Linked DNA regions of Homo sapiens: regions 1, 2, 3, 4, 6 and 7 are each linked to region 5. Evidence: fine-mapped expression QTL. A gene starts in region 5. Each other region holds a variant in brackets. All regions are shown on one strand. Distances are between the middles of the regions.

Evidence for each region.
Region 1: its variant is fine-mapped to the expression of NSMF in whole blood (TOPMed, PIP above 0.99).
Region 2: its variant is fine-mapped to the expression of NSMF in whole blood (TOPMed, PIP above 0.99). The same link has a PIP of 0.9 or more in blood mononuclear cells.
Region 3: its variant is fine-mapped to the expression of NSMF in whole blood (TOPMed, PIP above 0.99).
Region 4: its variant is fine-mapped to the expression of NSMF in whole blood (TOPMed, PIP above 0.99).
Region 6: its variant is fine-mapped to the expression of NSMF in whole blood (TOPMed, PIP above 0.99).
Region 7: its variant is fine-mapped to the expression of NSMF in whole blood (TOPMed, PIP above 0.99).

What each region holds. Positions count from the first base shown.
Region 1 is chr9:137,397,937-137,402,007 of GRCh38, forward strand. The region is part of intron 1 of EXD3 (exonuclease 3'-5' domain containing 3); the gene reads right to left. Among named protein-coding and RNA genes, the nearest start is that of EXD3, 23 kb to the right of the region's middle. The variant G/T (reference allele first, on the strand shown) is at 1,557.
Region 2 is chr9:137,437,560-137,441,559 of GRCh38, forward strand. ENTPD8 (ectonucleoside triphosphate diphosphohydrolase 8) reads right to left here and starts at 3,798. Exons shown (of 10, transcript NM_001033113.2): 1 at 3,727-3,798; 2 at 601-746; 3 at 408-525. The coding sequence starts at 726. RefSeq lists a silencer at 3,658-3,952. The variant G/A (reference allele first, on the strand shown) is at 1,529.
Region 3 is chr9:137,320,187-137,324,257 of GRCh38, forward strand. It overlaps EXD3 (exonuclease 3'-5' domain containing 3), which reads right to left. Exons shown (of 22, transcript NM_017820.5): 18 at 3,904-3,957; 19 at 3,539-3,670. Among named protein-coding and RNA genes, the nearest start is that of NRARP, 20 kb to the left of the region's middle. RefSeq lists enhancers at 135-769, 770-1,403. The variant G/A (reference allele first, on the strand shown) is at 1,609.
Region 4 is chr9:137,325,391-137,329,461 of GRCh38, forward strand. All of the region lies in intron 17 of EXD3 (exonuclease 3'-5' domain containing 3), which reads right to left. Among named protein-coding and RNA genes, the nearest start is that of NRARP, 25 kb to the left of the region's middle. The variant G/A (reference allele first, on the strand shown) is at 1,740.
Region 5 is chr9:137,457,270-137,461,340 of GRCh38, forward strand. NSMF (NMDA receptor synaptonuclear signaling and neuronal migration factor) reads right to left here and starts at 2,065. Exons shown (of 16, transcript NM_001130969.3): 1 at 1,763-2,065; 2 at 1,219-1,280; 3 at 138-632. The coding sequence starts at 1,833. It overlaps PNPLA7 (patatin like domain 7, lysophospholipase), which reads right to left. Exons shown (of 35, transcript NM_001098537.3): 34 at 3,365-3,468; 35 at 2,683-3,207. The coding sequence ends at 3,124. RefSeq lists enhancers at 249-946, 3,770-4,071 and silencers at 1,586-1,855, 1,946-2,295.
Region 6 is chr9:137,505,526-137,509,596 of GRCh38, forward strand. It overlaps PNPLA7 (patatin like domain 7, lysophospholipase), which reads right to left. Exons shown (of 35, transcript NM_001098537.3): 13 at 458-558; 14 at 89-235. Among named protein-coding and RNA genes, the nearest start is that of PNPLA7, 43 kb to the right of the region's middle. The variant A/G (reference allele first, on the strand shown) is at 1,536.
Region 7 is chr9:137,425,639-137,429,700 of GRCh38, forward strand. It overlaps NOXA1 (NADPH oxidase activator 1), which reads left to right. Exons shown (of 14, transcript NM_001256067.2): 2 at 610-692; 3 at 2,395-2,503; 4 at 3,244-3,378; 5 at 3,638-3,745. Among named protein-coding and RNA genes, the nearest start is that of NOXA1, 4.3 kb to the left of the region's middle. RefSeq lists an enhancer at 3,264-4,018. The variant C/T (reference allele first, on the strand shown) is at 1,989.

The sequences.
Region 1 (4,071 bases), 59 kb before region 5:
TGTCTCAAGAAAACCCCAAAAAACCATGAATAAAGTTAAAAAATATGGTTTTAATGAGTAAAAGGAGAGAAATGAAGATTATATGAAACTACATAAAAGAGCTAAATGGAAACTCGGCAATAAAAAGTGTCATCACTGAAATGTGTTTGACTCAGTGGCTGTGCTTCACAGCAGGTGGATGGCAGATGAGTCAGTGAATCTGAAAACAGATCAAAGAAGGACCAGATTGAAAGAACGAGGGGGAAAGACAGAAGGAACTGTGGCTCCACGGTCCACAGCCGGGCGCCCTCTGTTCCCCTGGTGAACGGCCCCGTCTGCAGCACTGCACGCCTGGCTCTGGGGTTCACACGCTTTGTGGAGACACCCATTCCCCAGCCTCTGCCTGCCTCCGTCTGGATGGCTGCACTGCAGCCCTGCTCACCCTGGACCCCCTTCCCTCTTGTCCCCTGTGCTCCCCGAAGTTCACCTCCTAGTTCTAAGGGAGCACCTTTTCCAGGAGCACCTCAGGCAGAACCGCAAGGGAGGAGCACTGAGTAGCCCTTTGCTTGTCTGAGAACGTCCCCATGACACATGTGCACCCATGTCCCCAAGACACACAGGCAACCGCGTCCCCAAGACACACAGGCAACCGCGTCCCCAAGACACACAGGCAACCGCGTCCCCAAGACACACTGGCACCCGCGTCCCCAAGACACACAGGCACCCGCGTCCCCAAGACACACAGGCGACCGCGTCCCCAAGACACACAGGCACCCACGTCCCCGTGACACACGTGCACCCGCATCCCCAAGACACACAGGCACCCGCGTCCCCGAGACACACAGGCACCCGCGTCCCCGTGACACACAGGCACCCGCGTCCCCGTGACACACAGGCACCCGCGTCCCCGTGACACACGTGCACCCGCATCCCCAAGACACACAGGCACCCGCGTCCCCGTGACACACATGCACCCGCGTCCCCAAGACACACAGGCAACCGCGTCTCCGTGACACATGTGCACCCGCGTCCCCAAGACACATCCCCAAGACACACAGGCAACCATGTCCCCGTGACACGCGTCCAACATCCTCGTAACACGTGCACACCGACATCCCCGTGACATACACAGACTGTCCCTGTGGCACAGGCGCATCCACGTCCCCATGACACACGCACACTGCACCTCCACTGGAAGCCTGGCTGTGCGTGGCTGTGGGGCAGGGGTCATTCTCCTGACGGTCATGGTAACGCCCCTCTACTGTCTTCTAGCCTCAGGGGTTGCTGAGAAATCTGATGCCCCCTGACTCGAGTGCCAGCATCTTCTGGGGAGACCCCGGGGCCGTGGCCGGATCCCAGCAGGACGGACATGGTGTGGTCCCCTGGGGGCTCCGTGGCCACCCTTCTGCATGTGGCTTCCCGATGGTGTCCTGCCCTCCACGCCCTCAGTTCTGTCCTCAGGAACTCCTGCTGTTTAGAACTTACACTTCCTGAGAATTACTTTGTCTTCTCATCTTTCCTTCTCTGCCTTTTTGGGAGATTTCCTGAACTTTATTTTGCAACCCTCTCACTGAAAG[G/T]TTCATTTCTGCTATCACAAATTTAATACTATCCACGAGTTCTGGTTTTCTGAAGCTTTTTACAAGGGTCTCCTCTCTTATTCCTGGCTTCTCTTCCTAACCCCCATATTAGTTCATTTTCACGCTGCTGATAAAGACATACCTGAAACTGGGAACAAAAAGAGGTTTAATTGGACTTATGGTTCCACATGGCTGGGGAGGCTTCAGAATCATGGTGGGAGGCGAAAGGCGCTTCTTACATGGTGGTGGCAAGAGAAAATGAGAGCCGGGTACAGTGGCTCACTCCTGTAATGCCAGCACTTTGGGAGGCTGAGGCGGGCAGTTCACCTGAGGTCAGGAGTTCATGACCAGCCTGCCAACATGGCGAAACCCTGTCTTTACTAAAAATACAAAAAGCAGCCAGGCGTGGTGGTGGTGCCTCCCAGGTACTCAGGAGGCGGAGAAAGGCGAATCACTTGAACCTGGGAACAGGGGTTGCAGTGAGCTGAGACTGCACCATTGCACTCCAGCCTGGGTGACAGAGCAGAACTCCATCTCAAAAAAAAAAAAAAAAAAAGAAAATGAGGAAGAAGCAAAAGAGGAAACCTCTGATAAACCCGTCAGATCTCATGAGACTTACTCACTATCAGAAGAATAGCATGGGAAAAACTGGCCCCCATGATGTAATTACTCCCCCTGGGTCCCTCCCATAACGTGGGAATTCTGGGAGATACAATTCGGGTTGAGATTTGGGTGGGGACACAGCCAAACCACATCATTCCGTCCCGGCCCCTCCAAATCTCACGTCCTCACATTTCAAAACCAATCATGCCTTCCCAACAGTCCCTCAAAGTCTCAACTGATTTCAGCATTAACCCAAAAGTCCACAGTCCAAAGTCTGATCTGAGACAAGGCAAGTCTCTTCCGCCTATGAGCCTGTAAAATCAAAAGCAAGTTAGTTACTTCCTAGATACAATGGGGGTACAGGTATTCAGTACATACAGCCATTCTGGGCCGGGCATGGTGGCTCATTCTTATAATCCCAGCACTTTGGGAGGCCGAGGAGGGTGGATCACCTGAGGTCGGGAGTTTGAGACCAGCCTGACCAACATGGAGAAACCCTGTCTCTACTACAAATACAAAATTAGCCGGGCGTGGTGGCACCCACCTATAGTCCCAGCTACTTGGGAGGCTGAGGCAGGAGAATCACTCGAACCTGGGAGGTGGAGGTTGCAATGAGCCGAGATCGCGCCATTGCACTCCAGCCTGGGCAACAGAGCGAGACTCCATCTCAAAAAAAAAAAAAAGTTCCAAATGGGAGAAATTGGACAAAACAAAGGGATTACAGGGCCCACGCAAGTCTGAAATCCAGAAGGGCAGTCAAATTTTAAAGCTCCAAAATGATCTCCTTTGACTCCAGGTCTCACATCCAGGTCATGCTGATGCAAGAGGTGGGTTCCCATGGTCTTGGGCAGCTCCACCCCTGTGACTCTGCATGGTACAGCCTCCCTCCCAGCTGCTTTCACAGGTGGTGTTGAGTGTCTGCTGCTTTTCCAGGCACATGGTGCAGGCTGTCGGTGGATCTACCATTCTGGCATCTGGATGACAGTGGCCTGCTTCTCACAGTCCCACTAGGCAGTGTCCCAGTAGGGACTCTGTGTGGGGGCTCCCACCCATTTCCTTTTTTTTTTTTTTTTTTTGAGATGGTGTCTCACTCTGTTGCCCAGGCTGGAGTGCAGTGGCGCGATCTCAGCTCACTGCAAGCTCCACCTCCCGGGTTCACACCATTCTCCTGCCTCAGCCTCCCAAGTAGCTGGGACAACAGATGCCCGCCACCACACCCGACTAAATATTTTTGTATTTTTAGTAGAGACGGGGTTTCACCGTGTTAGCCAGGATGGTCTTGATCTCCTGACCTTGTGATCTGCCTGCCTCGGCCTCCCAAAGTGCTGGGATTACAGGTGTGAGCCACCGTGCCCGGCCCCCACCCATTTCCCTTCTGCACTGCCCTAGCAGAGGTTCTCCATGAGGGCCCCGCCCCACAGCAAACTTTTGCCTGGACATTTAGGCATTTCCAAACATCTTCTGAAATGTAGGCAGAGGTTCCCAAACCTCATTTCCTGACTTCTGTGGACCCACAAGCTCAACACCACGTGGAAGCTGCCAAGGCTTGGGGCTTCCACCCTCTGAAGCCACAGCCCGAGCTCTATGTTGGCCTCTTTCAGCCACGGCTGGAGTGTCTGGGACATGGGGCACCAAGTCCCTAGACTGCACACAGCACAGGGACCCTGGGCCCAGCCCACAAAACCACTTTTTCCTCCCGGGCCTCCAGGCCTATGATGGGAGGGGCTGCCATGAAGGTCTCTGACATGACCTGGAGACATTTTCCCCATGGTCTTGGGGATGAACATTAGCCTCCTTGCTACTTATGTAAATTTCTGCAGCCGGCTTGAATTTCTCCTGAAAAAATTGGTTTTTCTTTTCTACTGCGTCAGGTTGCACATTTTCTGAATTTTTATGCTGTTTCCCTTTTTAA
Region 2 (4,000 bases), 20 kb before region 5:
TTTGTGGTAATTTGTTACCAGAGCCCCCAGGAAACAAATTCGGGGCCTCCTGTTTTCCCCTCTCAGGATCCTGGAGTGCAGGCACCCCTGTAACTACCAGCCTCGGCTGCCAGCACCACGTGGTGCCAGGGTGGGGAGCACCAGGGGCCAGAGAGGGTCAGGGCTGGAGGCAGCAGATGCTGGGCAGACCCAGGCCAGGCCATGAGAATCTGACTGCTCACCAGGATCAGGCAGGGAGGTCCCCAGAGTGCCACCGCGTGAACGCAGGCTCCGGCCCAGCACCCATGCCCGGCGTGTGAGCTCAGCCAAGTCACTGAACCTCTCCAAACCCTTTCCGTGCAGCTGGGAATCCCAGCCAGGCAGCAACAGGCAGGTCCCAGCACCGGGCTGCAGAACAGCCCACTAACCTTCCACCTGGCAGGCCAGGGCCTGGCTGACCACACCCGTGCCATTCTCCTTGTTCGCCAGCCACTGATACAGGAAGAGGGACGTGTGGGAGGAGCCCGCATCAAACACGATCCCAAACTGGGGAGACAGTGGGATGAGTGGGAGGCAACACCTGTGGACCCGGCCCGGCCTCCCCTGCCGGCGGGGACGCACCTTGATGTCTGTGGGCAGGAGCACGCTGGTGGCCTCCACCAGGAGGAGAATGAGTGCCGTGAGGCCTGAGACCCCCGAGGCCCCCAGCAGGGCCAAGAAGACCTGCTCCTTCCGGGACAGCCCCATGGTGCAGGTGGTACTGGTTCCTGTGGGGGGACGGCCGTGGGCACCCAGGCTGCACTTGGTGTCCCCATCCCGCCCTCCAGAGGCAGAGGCTTCGCTCCCCGTCTCCCTGGAGACGCACCCCTGGACAGCCACTTGCCTTAGAGGCATCTCCGGGGCTCAGACGCCTCCCGTGGCCATAGAGGCATCCCCGGGGCTCAGACGGTCTCCCGTGGCCTTAGAGGCATCTCCGGGGCTCAGGCGGCCTCCCGTGGCCATAGAGGCATCTCCGGGGCTCAGACGGCCTCCCGTGGCCATAGAGGCATCCCCGGGGCTCAGACGGCCTCCCGTGGCCATAGAGGCATCCCCGGGGCTCAGACGGTCTCCCGTGGCCATAGAGGCATCCCCGGGGCTCAGACGCCTCCCGTGGCCAAGGACCACTCCCCAGGAGCCACGCCTGCCAGGGGTGCCATGGGCATCAGAGGGCCCTGTGGGAGGGGGGCGGGGGGCAGCAGAGGCCTCGTCTGGGGACACAGCCCCAGCAGGATCCAAGTAGCCCCCTCGGACCCCCTCGGATGGGACTCGCGGAGCTGCCCCCACCATGTGATGGGGCCACCCTGTGTCCCCACCCCTCGGTCCTGCCTCTCCCGTGCCACCCTCCCCAGGAGCAGCCACAGCTCCAGCCTGCACTGGGGGCCCAGGGCTCTGCCTCCTCTCTGCGGCCCCCACCCCAGGCACTCCTAGGGTGGGGGTTTCTCTCTGGAGCCCTGAGGGGACTGTTGCCGAGGGGCTGTGGGTGAACCCAGGGTGAGGCCAGCCATCCTAG[G/A]AAGCCGAGTGTGAGGCTTCTTAACAACATCGGTTTCTCTGGAAATCCAGCCCAAGGCTTCCCTAATCTGACTCTGCACCTTCTTAGCTGGTGCCAGATGGCGCCTGGTCGGGAGGTGGACCCAGGGATGCCATCTGAGGGGCCTGGGCTTCTCTAGCCCTGTGGCCGAGGTGTCCACCTCCTCCTCTGCCCAAACGCCCAGCAAGGGTCTCAGCTCTCAAACTACCCCAGGCCGACCCTGTGCCCCATACAGCCCCACTTCACACGGGTACCACTGCCAAAGGAGTGGTCAAAGCCAGAGGCTGCCTGCCAAGGTCCCGGCACCTGAACCCCATGTGACCGTGTCCTATCGTGTTCCCCCGGGAAACGTTGCACCCACACTGAGTGGCAGGCGCGGGTGCTGCCCTGGTCCTGACCTGGGGCTCCTGGGCACGTGGAAAGTGGGACACGCTGTGGGGTCCTCACGCAATTCTGTATGTCCGGGGGATATAAGCCCATTTTAAGGAGGGTAGATGACAGAGGCTCAGAGAGGACAGGAGGCCGGTCCAGCCCAGACAGGGCCCAGCCTGTGTCCCCAACCAGCACCCAGGCCATAGGCCACCTCATAGGGACAAACAGGTGACAGGGGCCAGGAACACAGGGACTCCACACCCAGAAGATGTAGCCACCTGAGACCCCCAGGCCTGAGCCTCCAGGTAGGCAAAGAGGTTGGGGCAACCTCTCCCACACTCAAAAGACCCCCAAGACCAGAACAGCCTCCCAGATCAGAACAGCTCCTCAGACCAGGAAAGCGCCCCCCAGACCAGAACAGCCCCCCCGAGACCAGGACAGTGCCCCCAGACCAGGAGAGCCCCCCAGACCAGGACACCCCCTCAGACAGAACAGTCCCCCAGACCAGGACAGCCCCCCAGACCAGGACAGCCCCCCCCAGACCAGGAGAGCCCCCCAGACCAGGACACCCCCTCAGACAGAACAGTCCCCCAGACCAGGACAGCCCCCCCAGACCAGGACAGCCCCCCAGACCAGGACAGCCCCCCCAGACCAGGACAGCCCCCCCAGACCAGGAGAGTCCCCCAGGCCAGGACATCCCCTCACACAGAACAGTCCCTGAGACCAGGACAGCCCCCCCAGACCAGGACACCCCCTCACACAGAACAGACTCCCAGATCAGGACAGCCCCCCAGACCAGGACAGCCCCCCAGACCAGGACAGCCCCCGCCAGACCAGGACAGCCCCCCCCAGACCAGGAGAGCCCCCCAGACCAGGACACCCCCTCACACAGAACAGATTCCCAGACCAGGACAGCCCCCAGACCAGGACAGCCCCCCCCAGACCAGGACAGCCCCCCAGACCAGGACAGCCCCCCCCCAGACCAGGAGAGCCCCCCAGGCCAGGACACCCCCTCAGACAGAACAGTCCCCCAGACCAGGACAGCCCCCCAGACCAGGACAGCCCCCCCCAGACCAGGAGAGCCCCCCAGACCAGGACACCCCCTCAGACAGAACAGTCCCCCAGACCAGGACAGCCCCCCCAGACCAGGACAGCCCCCCAGACCAGGACAGCCCCCCCAGACCAGGACAGCCCCCCAGACCAGGACAGCCCCCCCCAGACCAGGACAGCCCCCCCAGACCAGGACAGCCCCCCAGACCAGGACAGCCCCCCCAGACCAGGACACCCCCTCAGACAGAACAGTCCCCCAGACCAGGACAGCCCCCCCAGACCAGGACAGCCCCCCAGACCAGGACAGCCCCCCCAGACCAGGACAGCCCCCCAGACCAGGACAGCCCCCCCCAGACCAGGACAGCCCCCCAGACCAGGACAGCCCCCCAGACCAGGACAGCCCCCCCAGACCAGGACACCCCCTCAGACAGAACAGTCCCCCAGACCAGGACAGCCCCCCCAGACCAGGACAGCCCCCCAGACCAGGACAGCCCCCCCAGACCAGGACAGCCCCCCAGACCAGGACAGCCCCCCAGACCAGGACAGCCCCCCAGACCAGGACAGCCCCCCCAGACCAGGACACCCCCTCAGACAGAACAGTCCCCCAGACCAGGACAGCCCCCCCAGACCAGGACAGCCCCCCAGACCAGGACAGCCCCCCCAGACCAGGACAGCCCCCCAGACCAGGACAGCCCCCCAGACCAGGACAGCCCCCCAGACCAGGACAGCCCCCCCAGGACATCCCTTTGGACCCTCACCTGGGCTGGCTGCCCACTTCCCGGAGCGGCAAGGAGGAAGCTGTGCTTAGACGCTTCTGTGTCCGCGCACCTGGCGTCCAGCCTCTCCCTGCCCCTGGGTCCAGGACAGCTGGGGTGGGCGGGGCAGGGCGGTGACAGCCTCGGGCGATGCGCTGTGCACCTGGCTCCAGGGCCCGCAGGCTGAGGCCAGCGCCCAAGGTCGCCCCGCCCACTCCACCCTCGGGTCCCCCGCCCAGGGTCTCCCCGCATCTCCCACCCGCGGGTCTGTCTCGGT
Region 3 (4,071 bases), 140 kb before region 5:
AGTCCGTGGGGCCAAGGCAGCCCCCCCGCCCCTTCCCCACGTCCTGCCCCCAGACAGAGGGGCTGGCACAGGTGGCAGGTCGCTGCCTGGGGCTGCAGCCAGGGCCCAGGGTACCCTCCAGGCCAAATTCCCCGCCGGCTGTTTGCAGTCTTTCAGATCCAGATGCTCCTTCCCTCACTGCCTTGGTCCTGGACAGCTGGCGCTGCCCTCTCCAGCCTGGACAGTTGCTGGCCCCCCACGGGGGTGCAGCTCTGGCCTTAGCCCCTCCCAGGCCTGCTCTACCTGCAGCCCCCCTGGGCCTGGCGCTCCTGCTTGCCACAGCAGGGGCAGCTTGGGGGTTGCAGGGTGTGGGTGGCAGAGTGGCATCAGCAGCTTGGAGCTGCCAGTAGCCAGCAAAGAGGCAGGGCGGACATGGGTCAGGGCGGCCCCCACTGCTCAGCCCCCGACGCCCCCATCCCATCCACTCAGCCAGGCCAAAGTCTGCCCTTCTGCCTCACACCCTGGACACCCTTCTCCATGCAGGGCTTGGCGGCCCCTCCATGCCTGGCCTGGGTCCTCAGGGGCACTCCCCAGCACCCGGCTGGCCAGGGCTCCAGCAGGGGTTTCCTCCCAGCTACCCAACTTCCTGTTTTCTCAAGAAAATGCAGCAGCCGATTCTGAACAGCTCATTAACATGCCTCCCCAGGCGTCCCGGACATCCTGGGGTCTTTACAGCGCTTGCTGGCCTGAGCACAGACAAAGAGAGGCAGCGGACGCGGTTCCTGCCGCCCCTGGAGCCCAAGGCTGCAGGAGAGGCCCCTGGAGCACACTTCCTTGCCACCTGAGGCAGAGGCCGCGGTCCCCGCAGGGCAGTGGGGTCAGAGGGTCAGACTGCACCCCCAGGCCAGGGGCAGTGGGAGGTCCAGGGGCCTGTGTGTACAGGTGCCTGGCCGGCTGCAGATCCGAGCCGAGCCGGAGCTTTCCCTCTTTCCTTCCTGCTTCAATCCCCGCCAGGCCCAGCCTGAGGCTGTGGGGGCAGAAGGGCGGTAGCAGAAGGCGCAGGCCTGCATCTGTTTCTGCTCAGCCAGGTGGGTGCCCTTGAGGACCATGGGGTGGAGCTGAGCTCAGGGCCCCTCCCTGCCCAGCCCAGGCACCAGCAGGGACCCTGACAGTGGCCTCCATGAGGGGATCTCCCTCCATGAGGGGGTCCCAAAACTTCCCCCAGAATTGGGCTTGGGAGGCTGGGATTACTCACGCCTGTCATCCCAGCACTTTGGGAGGCTGAGGCAGGAAGATCACCTGAGGTCAGGAGTTCAAGACCAGCCTGACCAACATGGTGAAACCCTGTCTCTACTAAAAATACAAAAATTAGCCGCCCGTGGTGGTGGGCACCTGTAATCCCAGCTACTCAGGAGCCTGAGGTGGGAGAATTGCTTGAACCTGGGAGGCGGAGGCTGCAGTGAGCTGAGATTACATCACTACACTCCAGCCTGGGCGATGGAGTGAGACTCCGTCCCACCCCCAAAAAACCCCAGGAAACAAAACTGGGCTTGTTGGAGCAGCCCCGACCTGCTGCTCCAGGCGGAATATTGATGTGGCCCTAACTGCGGAACGTTCTGGAAGCAGCCC[G/A]TACCCTCCACCGGGAACTGCCGAGAGCCAGCACAGCCCACAGTCCCCCTTGCTCCCGTGTCGCCCACGGAGACCCTGGCGCCTTGAGTGGAGGCGCAAAAGGCAGCATCAACTCCCCCCAGACTGGCCATGCCCAGGTGCCAGTTGGTGTGGGGCATAGCAAGCTTGGACAGTGCAGCCCTGGGCAGGTGCCTCAGCCCAGTCCCCCACTGGGGACAGGAGAGGAGGGAGAGAGGTGAGTTGGGCTTTGGTGCCCCCACCAGCCTCCTCTATGGATCTCCACCGAGGTGCGGCAGTTCCCACTCAGGGCTTCTGTTGCCCAGACCTTGTTAGACGTCACCAAGCAGACGCAGGCTGTCCTGCGTGTTGCCTTTGGAAAGTGGGACCCACCCAGCCTGAAGGGACTTCCACAATTTCCCTCGATTCCTTCTAGAAGCCCCATGGGAGCCAGAGGGAATTCCCCAAATCCAAGCCAATGCCTGATTGGAGCTGTCCCCGTGGCCATGCCAGCCTGCACTAGGGATGCTCTGCCGACGCCTCACCCTGGACCAGGGATTCTCTGCCGACACCTCACCCCGGACCCACAAGGGATTCTCTGCCAACATCTCACCCCAGACCCACGAGGGATGCTCTGCCGACACCTCACCCCGGACCCACGAGGGATGCTCTGCCGACACCTCACCCCGGACCACGAGGGATGCTCTGCCGACACCTCACCCCGGACCACGAGGGATGCTCTGCCGACACCTCAACCCGGACCACGAGGGATGCTCTGCCGACACCTCACCCCGGACCACGAGGGATGCTCTGCCGACACCTCACCCCGGACCACGAGGGATGCTCTGCCGACACCTCACCCCGGACCCCCGAGGGATTTTCTGCCGACACCCCACCCCGGACCCCCAAGAGATTCTCTGCCGACACCCCACCCCAGACCCACGAGGGATGCTCTGCCGACACCCCACCGCGGACCCCCGAGGGATTCTCTGCCGACACCCCACCCCGGACCCACGAGGGATGCTCTGCCGACACCCCACCCCGGACCCACGAGGGATGCTCTGCCGACACCCCACCCCGGACCCACGAGGGATGCTCTGCCGACACCCCACCCCGGACCCACGAGGGATGCTCTGCCGACACCCCACCCCGGACCCACGAGGGATGCTCTGCCGACACCCCACCCCGGACCCACGAGGGGTGATCTGCCGACACCCCACCCCGGACCCACGAGGGGTGATCTGCCGACACCCCACCCCGGACCCACGAGGGGTGATCTGCCGACACCCCACCCCGGACCCACGAGGGGTGATCTGCCGACACCCCACCCCGGACCCACGAGGGATGATCTGCCGACACCCCACCCCGGACCCACGAGGGGTGATCTGCCGACACCCCACCCCGGACCCACGAGGGGTGATCTGCCGACACCCCACCCCGGGCCCACGAGGGATGCTCTGCCGACACCCCACCCCGGACCCACGAGGGATGATCTGCCGACACCCCACCCCGGACCCACGAGGGGTGATCTGCCGACACCCCACCCCGGACCCACGAGGGATGCTCTGCCGACACCCCACCCCGGACCCACGAGGGATGCTCTGCCGACACCCCACCCCGGACCCACGAGGGATGCTCTGCCGACACCCCACCCCGGACCCACGAGGGATGATCTGCCGACACCCCACCCCGGACCCACGAGGGATGATCTGCCGACACCTCACCCCGGACCCACGAGGGATGATCTGCCGACACCTCACCCCGGACCCACGAGGGATGCTCTGCCGACACCTCACCCTGGACCACGAGGGATGCTCTGCCGACACCCCACCCCAGACCCACCACTGTCTAGGGTGGGGCCCACCTCCCTGGACACCCCCGTAGCTCCAGATCTTGTGCCAGCCCCAGGTAGGACGGGGTGCGCAGGACCCACCTGGCAGCGGCTGAAGATGTCTGCGTGGGTGACACGCACGTTGAAATGCTTGAGCACAGCCTTGGCCTGCTGCTGGGCCTTCAGGGAGCAGTCGACCGAGAGGCAGCGCCCAGCCCCGACCTGGGCCCGGAGCTGCAAAGACACGGCTCGGCTACTGAGGGGCAGTGCAGAGCCCAGCACCTGCCCAGGCCCAGCCCGCCTCCGCCAGCATGGGGCAGGAGCCTTCTCTCGGCCCACCAGGGGTACGGCAGAGGCGCTGGGGGTCGGCCCCACGGCAAGCTGACCCTGAGGTGGGGGTGGCCGAGGGGCTGGGGGCTTGGGAAGATGGGGCTCAGGCCCACTGAGCTTATCTTTGGGACACTCACCTTGTGGAATGGCTGCCCCGACGTCAGAATGATCCTCCCCTCCTGCCTGGCAACCTGTGTGGGAGGTGCGACCAGCACATAAAGGGGGCAGCTCCGTGCTCCTGGACTGGGCCACCTCTGCTCGCCACCCCCTAGCTCCCCGGATCGTGGCCCTGCCCCAGGCCCCTT
Region 4 (4,071 bases), 130 kb before region 5:
GACACCTTTCCATGCATTCAGAATGGTTCCTTAAAATCATCAGTTAACTTTTTTTTTTTTGAGATGGAGTCTCACTGTGTCGCCCAGGCTGGAGTGCAGTGGCACAATCTCGGCTCACTGCAAGCTCTGCCTCCCGAGTTCAAGCGATTCTCATGCCTCAGCCTCCCAAGTAGCTGGGACTACAGGCATGCACCAGCACACCCAGCTAATTTTTGTATTTTTAGTAGAGACGGGGTTTCTCCATGGTGGCCAGGCTGGTCTCAAACTCCTGACCTCAGGTGATCTGTCTGCCTTGGCTTGCTAAAGTGCTGGGATTACAGGTGTGAGCCACCGCACCCGGCCAAATCGTTAGTTATCTTTAAGAGTGCAAGACCAACTCAAAAACATCAGAGCTAATACTATAAAACTCTTAGAAGAGGCTGGGCAAGGCGGCTCGTGCCTGTAATCCCAGCACTTTGGGAGGCTGCGATGGGTAGATTGCTTGAGTCCAGGAGTCCTAGACCAGCCTGGGCAACAGAGCAAAACCCCATCTCTGCAATAAATAAAAAAACTAGCCAGGCGTGCCTGTAGTCCCAGCTACTTAGGAAGTCGACGTGGGATGATCACCTGAGCCGGGAGGTCAAGGCTGCAGTGGGCCGTGTTTGCGCCATCAGACTCCAGCCTGGGCTACAAAGTGAGAACCTGTCTCAAAAAAAAAAAAAAAAAGACTCTTAGAAGAAGACACAGGGGAACACTTCCTGGCGCTGTATTTGGCCAGGATTTCTTCGATATGACACCGCAGCAAAGGCAGCAAAAGAAACACTGGAGCGACTGGACCCTCATTACAGTGAAATGTACACGTAGGACACTCTGGAGGAATAAAACACCTCAGGGTGGAGACGTCGGTATTTGCAAATCACGTATCTGACGAGGGGTTGATATCCAGAGTATAGGAGGAACCCTATAATTCAACAACAGAAAAGCAAATAATCCAGTTTAAAAATTGAAGGGCAGGGCACGGTGCCTTACGCCTGTAATCCCAATACTTTGGGAGGCTGAGGCGGGAGGATGGCCTGAGCCTGGGAGGCTGAGGCTGCTGTGAGCTGTGATCGTGTCACTGCACTCCAGCCTGGGTAACAAAGTGAGACCTTATCTCAAAAAGAAAAAAAACAGTTGGCAAAGGACTTAAATAGACACTTCTTCAAAGATATACGCGTGGCCAATAAGCACATGAAAAGATGCTCTACATTATTCGTCATGAGCGACATGCAAATAAAAACCACAGTGAGACATCACATCCATTAGGGTGGCCTTTATAAAAAAAAAGGGAAATAAATGTTGGTGGGATGTGGATAAACTGAACTCTCATGCGTCACTGGCGGGAAGGTAAATGGTGTGGCCGCCGTGGAAAACAGTGTGAAGGTTCCTCAAGAAGTTAAACACAGAGTCAGTAGAGGATTCAGCAGTTTCACCTTTAGCTGTATATGCAAAAGAACTGAAAGCAGGAACTCAAGCACATCCTCATACATCAGTGTTCGTAGCAGCCACATTCAAAAAAAAAAAGGAAGGACGTTCCGACACAGGCTACGTCGTGAATAAACCCTTACGACACGCCGAGTGAAAGATGCCAGATACAAATGGGCAGATACTATATGATTCCACGTCTACGAGGTACCTAGGACAGGTCAATTCATAGAGGCAGAAAGTGGAACAGTGGCCACCAGGGCTAGAAGGAGGGGAGGGGAGATAACTATTGGTAC[G/A]GAGTCTTTTTTTTTTTTTTTTGAGACAGAGTCTTGCTCTGTCGCCCAGGCTGGAGTGCAGTGGCACGATCTTGGCTCACTGCAAGTTCTGCCTCCCGGGTTCACGCCATTCTCCTGCCTCAGCCTCCTGAGTAGCTGGGACTATAGGCGCCCTCCACCACGGCCCGCTGATATTTTGTATTTCTAATAGAGACAGGGTTTCACTATGTTAGCCAGGATGGTCTCGACCTCCTGACCTTGTGATCCGCCCGCGTCGGCCTCCCAAAGTGCTGGGATTACAGGTGTGAGCCACCGCGCCCGGCCAGTATGGAGTCTTTGGGATGATACCCAGTTCTGGAAAGGGGTGGTGGTGATGGATATGTGATACAGTGAATGTGCTAATGCCACTGAATTGTACACTTAAAAATGGTTAAAATGGTCAATTTCGTGTTATGTATGTTTTACCACAAAAAGAAAGAAAAAAAGGGAAACAGAAAGTAGTTACTTCGTGGTAATAACAAATATACACCCATATGATGAGTAAAAACAACCAATATATACCTATATGATGAGTAAAAAACTGATATACACTCATATGATGAGTAAAAACAACAAATATACACCCACATGATGAGTAAAAACAACTAATATACTCCCATAGGATGAGTAAAAACAACAAATATACACCCACATGATGAGTAAAAACAACTAATATACACCCATATGATGAGTAAAAACAACGAATATACTCCCACATGATGAATAAAAACAATGAATAAACACCCACATGATGAGTAAAAACAACTAATATACTCCCATATGCTGAGTAAAACAACTAATATACTCCTATATGATGAGTAAAAACAACTAATATACACCCATATGATGAGTAAAACAACTAATATACTCCCATATGATGAGTAAAAACAACGAATAAACACCCACATGATGAGTAAAAACAACTAACATACTCCCATATGATGAGTAAAAACAACTAATATACACCCATATGATGAGTAAAAACAACGAATAAACACCGACATGATGAGTAAAAACAACTAATATACACCAATATGATGAGTAAAACAATTAATATACTCCCATATGATGAGTAAAAACAACAAATATACACCCACATGATGAGTAAAAACAACAAATAAACACCCACATGATGAGTAAAAACAACGAATAAACACCCATATGATGAGTAAAAACAACTAATATACACTCATATGATGAGTAAAAACAACGAATAAACACCCATATGATGAGTAAAAACAACTAATATACACTCATATGATGAGTAAAAACAACTAATATACACTCATATGATGAGTAAAAACAACTAATATACACCTATATGATGAGTAAAAACAAAAGTAAAAACAAACACAACTGGTAAATAAAGTAAATATACGGGAAAAAACCAAAGGAAACGGGTCAAAGGGAAGAAACAGACTAGTTACACAGGAGCTACACGGGACTACACGGGACTACACGGGGCTACACGGGACTACACGGGACTACACGGGGCTACACGGGACTACACGGGACTACACGGGACTACACGGGGCTACACGGGACTACACAGGGTCACACGGGACTACACGGGACTACACGGGACTACACGGGGCTACACGGGACTACACGGGACTACACGGGGCTACACGGGACTACACGGGACTACACGGGGCTACACGGGACTACACAGGGTCACACGGGACTACACGGGACTACACGGGGCTACACGGGGCTACACGGGACTACACGGGACTACACGGGGCTACACGGGACTACACAGGGTCACACGGGACTACACGGGACTACACGGGGCTACACGGGGCTACACGGGGCTACACGGGAGCTACACGGGACTACACGGGGCTACACGGGGCTACACGGGGCTACACGGGAGCTACACGGGGCTACACGGGGCTACACGGGGCTACACGGGAGCTACACGGGACTACACGGGGCTACACGGGACTACACGGGGCTACACGGGGCTACACGGGGCTACACGGGAGCTACACGGGAGCTACACGGGGCTACACGGGGCTACACGGGAGCTACACGGGACTACACGGGGCTACACGGGGCTACACGGGACGACACGGGGCTACACGGGGCTACACGGGAGCTACACGGGGCTACACGGGGCTACACGGGAGCTACACGGGGCTACAGGGGGCTACACGGGGCTACACGGGACTACACGGGAGCTACACGGGGCTACACGGGGCTACACGGGACTACACGGGAGCTACACGGGAGCTACACGGGACTACACGGGGCTACACGGGGCTACACGGGGCTACACGGGAGCTACACGGGAGCTACACGGGGCTACACG
Region 5 (4,071 bases):
TTTAATCTTGAGTCCGCTGGCATGCTGTGACCTGAGCACCTGTTCTCTGTTCCAAGCCTCACAGTGGCTGCTGCTGTCAGACCCTGGCAGCGGCATGCACCCCCAAACCTGTCTATGCCCTGACACAAACCCCTCACCAGACACACGGTCAACGCTGTACATCCTCTCCAGCTTCTTGCGGCGACCGGAGGTCTCAGGCAGAGGTGGCTGGTCCAGCCCAAAGGCCCGAGGGGTGGGGCCAGGAGCCAGCTGGGCACATCCGGGGCACTCCTTGGAGCCCTGGCGGCTGCCCGCCCAGCTCTGGCAGGGCCTGCTGACGTCCTCCCGGCTGCCACCAGGGCTGGCGCGCAGGGGCTGGCTGTGATGGTGAGGGTGCCGCTGCCGCCGCCCCTTCACCACCGCCAGCTCAATGGCCTCCGCCTCAGGGCTGGGCAGCAGGGCAGGCTCCCCAGAGATGGTGTACACTCGAGGCTGAGGGCCCTCGCCTGCGGGCTTCCTAATGCTGGGCTCCTCTGAGAGGCTGCCCTCGTAGCAGCCGTTGGAGACGAGGGACAGGCGGCGCTTGTTCTGGGGGGCCGGCTGCATCTCGGGGGACCCGTCGTGGCCAGAGTAGGCATCAGCCAGCAGGTGATCTAGGAGAGACACTGAGTGAGCCTGCCTGCCGCGTGTGGGCCCCCCGCTGCCGGTTTCATAGCAGGCCGAAGGCAGAGAACACCCAGTGGGCACCTGGCCTCTGTGGGGGACTAGGGCTGCCCAAACCCTAGTCACTGGCGTGTTTCTGAGCCCCTCACTCCTATCTGGGCCTGAAGCTCTAGCATGTGCGTGGGGGCTGGGTGACGCTGTGCTACCTGTGTGCGGTCCTGCCGGGTAGGAACACGCAGGCCATCCCCCAGCCTGCGATCGCACCGTTTGCCTGGTGCCAACTTCCCCCTCCCCCCACCAGCTGGCCCCCAGAGGCAGTGGTGCCAGCCCTGGGGGAGCCAGGAGGCCTGTTGCCATGCCAACGGCCCAGGCGGGGTGGGTGCCATGGTGACGAGCGGCTGGGAACTGCTCCTGGGGCTCGGGCAGGGAGGGCAGGGGATGTAAGGAAGCCAGGCCGGCAGGGCGCCGGGCCCACGCGCAACCAATGCCCCTCACGCTCCACCCCCGGAGGCAGGGATCAGCATCCCTTGGGCTGGGGGGTCTGGGCGGCCCTGGCACGGCCTCGCGTGCCCCTACCTGCGCCGTTGCGGTTCTCAGGGTGACTCTGGGACAGGTACTCTCCAAACGCTCGGGCTGCTCTGAGGGTGGACAGAGGGCACGGTCAGAGGCCACGGCACGACCCTCCCAAACACCGGGCCGCGCAAGAGCCGGGGGTCCGGTCCCCAGCCAGGCCCTCGGCGTCTGGAAGGAGGGTCGGGGTCGTCCCCCTCCGGGAGCCCACACACCCTTGGTCCTGGTGCGCCCTGGCCAGGCCTGCAGGCCCGGCCCCTGCCCGTCGGACCGTGGAGAGGGGTCGCGAGGCCGGTCGGCTGCTGTTCCCCGGGGGAACCGAGGCCACTCCCGACCTGGGGGGTGCGCTCGCCCACCACGCGCTCGCGAGGGGAGGGGAGGGAAGAGCAGGGCAGGGGACCAGGAAGAGGGAGGCGCGGGGCGCGGGGAGGGCGCCTCAGTGGCAGAGGCCGGGGCCCGGGAGCCCGGGGAGCACCGCGGGGCAGGGGCGGACTCGGGCGGGGTCGGAGGTCCAGGGCGGGGTGCGGGAAGGCGGCCCCGCCGCACTCACCGCACTTTGGCCGCCACCGAGGACATGGCCTCGCTCCTCAGCGCCCTCCTCCTGGAGGCGGCGGCGCCCATGGTCGAGGCGGCGGCGCATCCCCCGGGCCTCAGAGCGCGCCCCGCGCCCGCCGCCTCCGCCGGGGTAGCCGCGCCGCACCGGGGGTCGCGCTCGGGCTCGGGCTCGGGGTCTCGCTCGGGCTCCGGCTCGGGCTTGGGCTCGGGGTCGGGCTCGGGGTCGGGCCCGGTCCCCGCATGGCCGCACCCGGCGCTCCGCGCGTGCCGCCGCTCCCGGGAGAGCGCTGCCCGAACCGAGGGCCGGCCCCGCCCATCGTGACGTCAGGGCCCGGGCGGGCCCAGAGGGGCGGTCGGCCCCACCTACCGTGACGTCAGGGCCCCGGAGAGCTCGGAGAGGACATGTGGCCCCGCCCACCGTGACGTCCGGGCCCGGGTTGAGTTGGGGGCGGGGCCGGGCGGCCTGGCTCCGCGCCCTCTCGTCCAGGCCTCCAGAGCGGGGAAACTGAGGCCAGCGGCCCCCTGGTCGCAAAGTCCTGGGCCCTCGGCCCTCACGATCTGCTGCTCAGACCTGCAGGATCACAGGGAGGCCGGTTCTCCCTCCCCTTACACAAAAGGGCTCCCTGTGCAGTTTGGGAACTGGAAACCGAAGGGGAAGCCAGTTTAGGGGGCACCCAGTTTGCACGAGGCCAGAGAGAGACAGAGGGGCCCGTCCTGGTCCTGGGGGGCCACAGCTCTATGCAGACTCTGGACGCCCTACCTGCCTGGCCTGCATTTGCCGCCCTAGGGCTCTCAGGCCCCAGCAGTGGGGTCCTTTGAGGAGGACTGGGGACTGCCCAGCCTCAGGGACCACCCGCATCAGGGAGAACCAGTAGTGTTTCTTTGCCACAGGGACCTCGGCCCGGGAGACACGTCCAACAGTGAGATCCACCTTTATTGAAACATCACACGGCAGCATCAGGGCTCCCACACCTCACAGGGCAGCAGGCAGTTCACAGGACAGCAGGCAGTTCACAGGGCTTTGGGGGCCTCACAGGGCAGCAGGTGGTTCACAGGGCTTCGGGGGGCCTCACAGGGCTTCGGGGGGCCTCACAGGGCTGCAGGGGGTTCACAGAGCTTCAGGGGCCTCACAGAGCTTCAGGGGCCTCACAGGACTGCAGGGGGGCTCACAGGGCCCTGTATGCAGGGCTGCTGGTACAAAGAAGAGGCCCAGAGAACCCTAACACAGCCTGGGGCCCCGGGGAAGTCAGGGCTTCCAGCAGGGCAGGTACAGAGGCCCCTAGGACTTGGCAGGAGCCTCAGCCTTGGGGACAGTCCCACGGAAGACGCTGCATCCGGGCTCTTTAGCAGAGGCCTCTACCCGTCCTGGTCAGAGGAGCCCTCAGACAGTTTTGGGAAAGCCAGACTGGGGTGTCGATGCCGCAGTGAGGACTCGTCCTCCTGCAAGCAGACCGCATGTTCCAGGTGAGGACCAGGCAGGGCAGGGGCTCTGCAGCGCTGGTAACCCGGTGGGACCACAGGGAGGGAGTGGCCGGCACAGGGCCAGGCACCAAGGCTCAGCTGTGGGCACCAGGTGGGACCATGCCCAGCTCCTCACCAAGTCTGAGCCCTGCTGGGCTGAGGTGCTCTGGAAGTCTGCGTATGCATCCCTGGGGACGTCCAGCAGCTCCTCCTCGTACTCCGTCTGGTAGTCAGATTCGTCTGGCACCGAGGGTAGGGCTGCGTCAGTCCCCTCCCAAGGAAGGGACCGTACCCAGCATAGCCACACTCAGAGGCAGAACCGGCCACAGATGCCCACCCCCGCCTCCAAGGTGGCCCGGGGCCCTACACGCAGCCACCTGGTCCCAGGGCAGCCCTGCACACCACCCCTGGTTCTGTCTGGCTCCAGCTTTGCCCCAGCACATCACTTCGTGGGTCTTCCACAAGGACAAGGAGCGGGCAGACACTCCTCCCCTTGTCAGCCAAGCACCCTGAGGGCTCCAGCACCCCAGACCTGGCAACTGTGGATAGGGGCTGCCTTGCCCAGGGCCCTCTCGGCCTGCGGCAGCCATGAAGACGTCTCCCAGGAGAATGTCCAGTTCTGCTGTGAGGAGGCCACTGGCTGAAGGCCCAAGCGCAGGGCCCTGGATGGAGCATGGAGGGTAGTGGACCCGCCCTTCTTGTCCTGCGGCCCCTCCAACAAGCAGCCTTCATTCCCATTTCCCACTGGGTGGGGTGGGAGGCAAAACGTGGTTCTACTTCAGGCCTGAGGTGTGGCTGGGAGTTGAGGTGAATGAAGGGCAGGGGCTGGGTGACCCGGGGTGG
Region 6 (4,071 bases), 48 kb after region 5:
ACACCTGGAACCACTGCCCAACAGAGGCAGAGAGGAGGCCACGGGCCCTGGGTGGGACAAGGGCCAGGTGCCCGCCGGGGCCACTCACTTCCAGCTTCATCAGGGTGAGCAGGTCCTTCTTGGCAGCTCTGAAGATGGCATCCGACTTCCTGCTGGCCAGGGTCTCATCCGTGTGACTCTCTGAGTGCTGGGAGACCGTGGAGGGTATCTCTGCAACCATCACGCTTTTCCTGGACTGGAGAAGAACGGAGATACCGGCAATTCGAAGGGATGTGGTTGGGGAACATCGCACAAGGGTGTGGTCAGGTCTGAATCGCACAGTGCGGAAAGGCCGGCTGAGCCTCCTGAAGCTGCAGGTGCCACATGACACCAAAGCCGGCGGCGCCCCCAATGCACCAGCAAGCCACGGAGAGGGTGGGGCCCCAGGCGGAGGGTGAGAATGACAGCCAGGGCCTACCTTGCTGGCCACGGAGCTCCCGGGGTGCTCGTCCGAGTGCAGGAAGACCCTGGCACGGTCACATGCCATCCCCAGATCAGAAGTGGCACTGCCTGGGCCCCCTACACACAGAGGGGACACTCAGGACACGGTTCGCTAGGCCACTGACACAAACGTCCGCGGTGTGGGCTGAGCACACCCTGCAGTCTAACCACACAGACCCCGGCAGCTCCCTCGAGGGAGTCGGGCCCTGAGATCCCTCCACACCCTGCTTTCTTTCGGCATCTGCCTCAATGGCTCTGTGACCCACCAGCTACAGGTTTTCTCCGCAGCTTAAACCCACACGGTGCCTTCAACATTTCTGGGCACTGATAAAGGTAGCCCGGTCGGTACCTAAAACACGGAAGGAAACCAGCCCTGGTCCTGAGCCAAATTCCTCAAACCTTGCCATGCGTGCCACACCCTGACGGCTCGCTGCGGCCAACCCTGGGTAGAGCACCCTTTCTCTTGCTGTCCATCTCAGGGATGCTGCCGCCCTCTGTATGTGAGCTCCCCTAACGGGTGCCCTGGGCCGTCACGCTGGTGCTTTGGGCTTGGCTCTTTGCAGTCCCAGCCCCATCTCAGAGGTTCGCTCTTCGCAGTCCAGCCCCATCTTGGAGGGAGGGGGTTGAGGCACCCCCTCCAAAGAGCTCCCCTGTTGCTGCTTTTGGGCGGCCTCGGGCTGAGCGGGATGAAGCAGTGTGCACCCTTTTACAGCCTGCCCTCAGCATTACACATCACTACACACACAGCGTATCTGACCTCTGGACCAGCTGCTGTGGATTCTGAGGAAGGGTGCACGCTTTGCACGACGGGGTCACGCACTTCCAGGCACAGATCCAGCCCTTCGTGTGCAGCTGCGCATGCGAGCGAGTCATCTGCACTGCGGTTTCCCATCCATACTGGAATTCGCAACACCCATTTCTCAGCGGAATACAGAGGAACCGCGCAGACACTAACCGCAGACACATGCCACACAGATGCCGCAGCCACATGGCGCTGCGGGAAGGAACCAGGCCCAGGAGCACAGCCATGTGCCCCTCCCTGGGAAGCCAGACAC[A/G]GAGAGCCAGGAGCGCTGGGCCTTGGAAAGGGGCGCATGTCTCCGAGGCTTACGCTGAGGGTGCGCTGGTCGGGTTTCACGGAGCTGGCACCCTTCAGCCCGGTGCACTGTGCTGTGTATTACTCATGCCCCCGTCAAGTCCTGCTGTTTTTTAAAAAAATCCGAACTGGAAAGCAATCTATGGCAACAAAGGTCACCAGTGCTTCCTCTGGGGCTGACCCTCTGGGCTGGGCGAGAGGAGCGCAGCAGCCCCTTTACCTGGCTGCAGCCACACAGGGGAACACTGGGGTGTAATGACCACACCTTGTACGTCAACAAGCATGTAGCTAAATGATAAAATTTCTCACACCTATAGTCCCAGCACTTTGGGAGGCTGAGGCAGGCAGGTCGCCTAAGGTTGGGGGTTCGAGACCAGCCTGACCAACATGGAGAAACCCTGTCTCCACTAAAAATACAAAATTAGCCGGGCGTGGTGGCACATGCCTGTTACCCCAGGTCCTCGGGAGGCTGAGGCAGGAGAATCCCTTGAACCCAGGAGGCAGAGGTTGCGGTGAGCTGAGATCGCACCATTGCACTCCAGCTTGGGTGACAAGAGCAAAACTGTGTCTCAAAATAAATAAATAAAATAAAATACGGGGGCCAGGCATGGTGGTATGCACCTGACAAGAGCAAAACTCCATCTCAAAATAAATAAATAAAATAAAATACGGGGGCCAGGCATGGTGGTATGCACCTGTGGTCCTTGCTGCTCAAGAGGCCAAGCCGGAAGGATCGCTTGAGCCCAGGAGTTTGAGGCCTGGACAACATAGTGAGAGACTGCATCTCTTAAAAATAAATACATAAATAAATGGGCCAGGTGCAGCGGCTCATGCCTGTAATCCCAGCACTTTCAGAGGCCAAGGTGGAGGCAGCGCTTGAGGCCAGGAATTCAAGACCAGCCTGGGCAACACAGCAAGAGATCTCTATCTACAAAAATTTTAAAAACCAGCCAGGTGTGGGGGCCACACCTGTGGTCCCAGCTACCCATGAGGCTGAGGCGGGTGGATCACTTGAGCCCTCATGGGCTGAGGCAGGTGGATCATTTGAGCCCAGGAGCTCGAGGCTGCAGTGAGTTGTGATTTCACCACTGCACCCCAGCCTGGGCCATGGAGCAAGGCCTTACCTCAAAAAAAGAAAAAGAAAAAGTGGTGGATCAACTAGATAGCCATTTAGAAAAGGATGTATCAGCCGGGCGCGGCAGCTCACGCCTGGAATCCCAGCACTTTGGGAGGACGAGGCGGGCGGATCACGAGGTCAGGAGATCGAGACCATCCTGGCTAACACGGTGAAACCCCGTCTCTACTAAAAATACAAAAAATTAGCTGGGCATGGTGGTGGGCGCCTGTAATTAACAGCTACTCGGCGGCTGAGGCAGGAGAATTGCTTGAACCCCAGAGATGGAGCTTGCAGTGAGCTGAGATCGCACTATTGCATTCCAGCCTGGGCAACAAGAGCGAGACTCTGTCTCAAAAAAAAAAGAAAAGGAAAAAGAAAAAAGAAAAGGATATATCTTGACCCCTACTCACTTTCTACAAAAGAATAAATTCTAGATGGATCATATGAAAGGTAAAACGTTAAATCTTACAGACAGATTTCTTAAACAGGACACAAAATATATTAACCACAAAAGAAAAATATTGATAAATTAGATCCCATTAAGTTTAAAATTTCCTATTCATCAAAAGACACCACTACGATAGTAAAAAGTGAATAGAAAATATTTTTAATATACATACTTGACAAAGGAATCATACAGAGAATATATAAAGAATTCCTATTAATAATAAGAAAATGAAAGCTAAGAGGAAAATGGGCAAAAGACAAAGAAGGCTATCCAAGGTGCTCGGCCTCACAGTTCATCAAGAAGACAGAATCAGAGCACAGGCAGCCTCCACTGCACGCCCACCAGAAGACAGAGAGCAGCACATGCTGGGCCGGAAGTGGCCGCTAACCATGGGCGGCCAGTGAGCACCTGAAGTGTGGCTGGCATGAGTGAGTTTAGCTGGTACGAATGAGTTTAATTGGCATGAGTGAGTTTAGCTGGCATGAGTGAGTTTAGCTGACATGAGTGAGTTAGCTGGCATGAGTGAGTTTAACTGGTATGAGTGAGTTTAGCGGGTACGAGTGAGTTTAGCTGGCGTGAATTTAGCTGGCATGAGTGAGTTTAGCTGGCATGAGTGAGTTTAGCTGGTACAAGTGAGTTTAGCTGGTGTGAGTGAGTTTAGCTGGTACGAGTGAGTTTAGCTGGTACGAATGAGTTTAGCTAGTACGAATGAGTTTAGCCGGTATGAGTGAGTTTAGCCGGCGTGAGTGAGTTTAGCTGGCATGAGTGAGTTTAGCTGGTATGAATGAGTTTAGCTGGTACGAATGAGTTTAGCTGGTACGAGTGAGTTTAGCCGGCGTGAGTGAGTTTAGCTGGCATGAGTGAGTTTAGCTGGTACGAATGAGTTTAACTGGTGTGAGTGAGTTTAACTGGTGTGAGTGAGTTTAGCTGGTA
Region 7 (4,062 bases), 32 kb before region 5:
GCTTCCCAACATGCTAGGATTACAGGCGTGAGCTAACATGCCCGGCCTGTAATGCAGTTCTTTAGCTGCTGACTCTGGGATCTGGACTGCGTTATCTCGTCTCCAGTATGTGACAGCCAAGGTTGCCTGAGGTCAGGAGTTTGAGAATGTCTTGAACCCAGAGGCGGAGGCAGCAGTGAGCCAAGATCGAGCCACTGCACTCCAGCCTGGGTGACAGAGCGAGACCCCGTCTCAAAAAAAAAAAAAAGGATTTTTAAAAGACAAAAATCTTGCATAACCCCACTCCCCAGAGGTAACTATTATTAACATACTGGAACACTTTTTTCTGGCCTCTGTCCTTGTGCTCATGGTAAACACATTGGTTTTAGCAGCACCTCAGTGGGCTCTGCGCCTTGGACGGGTTGGGGTTGGGTGGGCTGTGGCAACCTGAGTGGCGACAGCCCTGCCCAGGCAGGGGCTCCGAAGGTTCCTGGACAGGAGCAGGAGGGGCTGTGGGGGGTCCCCAGGGGCTGACGGAATTCCGTGGCCCTGTCACCCATCACGCTGTATCTGTGATGCTGCGTGACCAGGTTACAGACCTTGGCATCCCGTGGGCATTTTTGTCCCCAGGCATTTGACCAAGCCGTGACCAAGGACACCTGCATGGCGGTTGGCTTCTTCCAGCGAGGAGTGGCCAACTTCCAGCTGGCAAGGTGAGTACAGGGGTGCCTTGTTCCTTCTCTGACGGCCCTTTGTCTCCCTGCAGAGTCCACTCCTGCACCTCCTCCTCCTCCCTCTCCATCCACTCCCTCCTCTTGCCCACCCCCTCCTCCATGGTTCCTGGCTCCAGGGAAACCTGAGACTGTGGCCCTCGCCTCTGCTGAGCGCCACCCTTGGACACAGGTCGTGGGGTCCTCACTGCTTACCTGGGCTCTCTGCACCATGTCCCTTCCTAAAGGAGGAATGAGGGAAAGGAGACCATCGGGACTGCAGACCAGGCCATGCCTCGGCCTCTCTGCTAGACACTCACAGGCCCCATCCCAGGAGGGCAGGCTCTGTGGGGAAGTGGATCACAGTCCCGAGAGCCTCGCAATCCTGAAATATCAAAACCCCTCAAATCTAAAATCCCAAAAAATATAATTCTAGAAAAAATAAAATTCTGTAAAAGATATTTATTTACTTTTTAAAAATTGTTTTGAGAAGGAGCCTTGCTCTGTCATCCAGGCTGGAGTGCAATTGTGCGATCTCGGCTCACTGCAACCTCCGCCTCCTGGGTTCAAGCGATTCTCCTGCCTTAGCCTCCCGGGTAGCTGGGATTACAGGCATGTGCCACCACGCCTGGCTAATTTTTGTATTTTTAGTAGAGACTGGGCATCACCATGTTGGCCAGGCTGGTCTCGAACTCCTGACCTCAGGTGATCCACCCGCCTCGGCCTCCCAAAGTGCTGGGATTACAGGAATGAGCCACCTCGCCCAGCCTATTTACATATTTTAAAGGGATTTATTTGAGAAACATAAAAACACGACGGAACCCTTCATTGGCCGATAAAATAGACAAAAATAACATACATATTTTTTCAAGCACAAATTCATGCACGCTAGCGACAGGCTCACGGGTGTGAGAACTACGAGCAGATGAACAGTGCTCATGAGGAGCTAGGTCAGAAGGGGTAAGACGTAGGTGCGTAGACTCTGGCTGGTGACTGTGTGCACCTGGCTTTATAACTGGTCATCAAAACACCAAGATGAACAACCCACCTTCTAACAAGATCCATCAAAGGCTTCAGGGACCACCACATACGCAGTCGCCCAGAGAGCCCGGATCTGGAGATATTTTACCTTTCAGAAAGGCAGATGAACGAAAAAGCCATCTCTTCCTTTACTGAAGAGTCCCAGCATTCGGGATTATGGCTGTGGGACTGTCCCTTTCTGGATTACGATCCAGACCCCTCTGGGGCAGCCTCTCCTTCACATCGGCGCGGGAAGCCCGCCTGGAGGAGAGGCCTCTC[C/T]GGCAGGCGCTGGGGAGCTCCCAGCAAGGCTTGGAAGGAGGCTCAGAGTTTGGAGGGGGAGCCCCCATGGGGTGGGGGGCCTGAGAAGCAGGAGGGAAATAACCAGGGCTCTCTGCACGGTTCAGAAGAGAGGCTTGGGGGCGGGCAGGGGCCCAGGAAGCTGAGTCTGAGCTGGGAAAATGGTGGAGCCCCAGCACACAGTGACCCCCACACCCACTCAGCACACATGTGCATGGACCCCTGGCCCACCAGACCTGAGTGTGCAGACCTAGGCACCGCACTGCCCTCCCTCAGGTCTCCTTGGAACCAGGTGTTGGGGGCGGCTCGAGCGGGGCTGGTGTGAAAGCTGCCTAACCACAGCCCCATCTCCGCCCTGTGCTGCTGAGGGGACCCCGGCTGCCCACAGGTTCCAGGAGGCTCTGTCTGACTTCTGGCTGGCCCTGGAGCAGCTGAGGGGCCACGCTGCCATCGACTACACGCAGCTGGGCCTGCGGTTCAAGCTGCAAGCCTGGGAGGTGAGGCCGGGCAGGGCTCACTGTGCTGCTGGCTGTGGGGTGTCCACGGGCGGTGGCACTGTCACAGGAGGGCCCTGTGGACTGGGGAGCGCCTCTGGCCGAAGCTCTTGGTGCCATGGAATACCCTGGCCACTCCTTGACCCGCAGGAGGTTCTGGTGGCAGTGGAGGTGGAGGGACCATTTTGTGCCATTTCAGGCCACCAGGGGTGGCTCCACCCAGAAGGAGGGCAGAGGCGAAAGGCTGCTGGGTGGGCAGGGAGCAGGCAGGGGGTTGTGCCCACCCTCCACTGTGCCCCCAGCCCTTTCCTGGCTGCCTGGAACGTGTTGGCACCGAAGGAGGGGTGCTGAGAGGCCCCCCCACCAGACCCCGGAAATGCATCGCCCTGAAGCCTTCTGGGAATAGCATTGTCTTTTAGGACAAAAAGATGGAAGGGAAAGCCCACTGGTGTGGGTCTGGAGTCAGGGTTAAAGCCAGGTGGGGGCCCGCCAGCCCAGGACACAGAACGGTGCAGGGGAGGGGCCGGGTGGGGGGATTGGGAGAGGAGCTGGGTGGGGAGACGGGGGAGAAGCCAGGTGGGGGGACTGGGGGAGAGGCTGGGTGGGGGGATGGGGGAGGGGCCAGGTGGGGGGACTGGGGGAGGGGCTGGGTGGGCAGACCGAGGGAGGAGCTGGGTGGGGGAACCGGGAGAGGGCCTGGGTGGGGCATCAGGCCCCTGCCATCACCTTGGCCCCACTCCCAGGTGCTACACAATGTGGCGTCGGCACAGTGCCAGCTGGGGCTCTGGACAGAGGCGGCCAGCAGCCTAAGGGAGGCCATGTCCAAGTGGCCGGAGGGGTCCCTGAATGGCCTGGACTCAGCCCTGGACCAAGTGCAGGTGAGGAGTGCCAGCCCGGTCATGGTTTTGGGCTGGTGCCTACCAAAGCTCCTCAAGACCAATTTCATGAGATGAAGAAGCTTCCGGAGGGAGATGGCCCTAGTGCCCAGTTTCGGGTGCCAGGCGGGGGCTTCCTGTGACCTGCGGGAAGGGGGTGGGGGGCCCAAGCGGCCCCTTCTGCTCCAAGGCACAGGGGCTCTGCGGCTGCAGGCCTGGTTGGTCACCCCGTCTGCATCTGCTGGATACCCACCCCCTCCAGAGACGGGGCTCACTGCCGCCACGGCAGGTCCCCAGGGGCGAGGTCTTCCGGCCCCACCGGTGGCACCTGAAGCACTTGGAGCCCGTGGATTTCCTGGGCAAGGCCAAGGTAAAGGTGGGGACGGCGTCCTGGGGCATGGCGGCTGGTGCTGAGCCCTCGAACTGTGTTCCCAGGGATGGGGGGAGGTGCAGTCCAGGCCACCGTAAGGGCCAGGAGGGTAGAGAGTGGGCCCACAGCCATCCTCAAACTGGCGCCCACGGTAGGGGGGCGGTGCCCCAAATGGGGCTGTGAGCTTGAAGGCAGAGCCCACTAGAGCCGGCTGCATAGGAGGGGGCTCCAGCTCTCTCAACAAGGACCCTGCAGGTGCCACCCCGCCCCCAGACTGGGCCATGGCCACAGCCACAGCCTTGCAGCCTCCCAGAGTC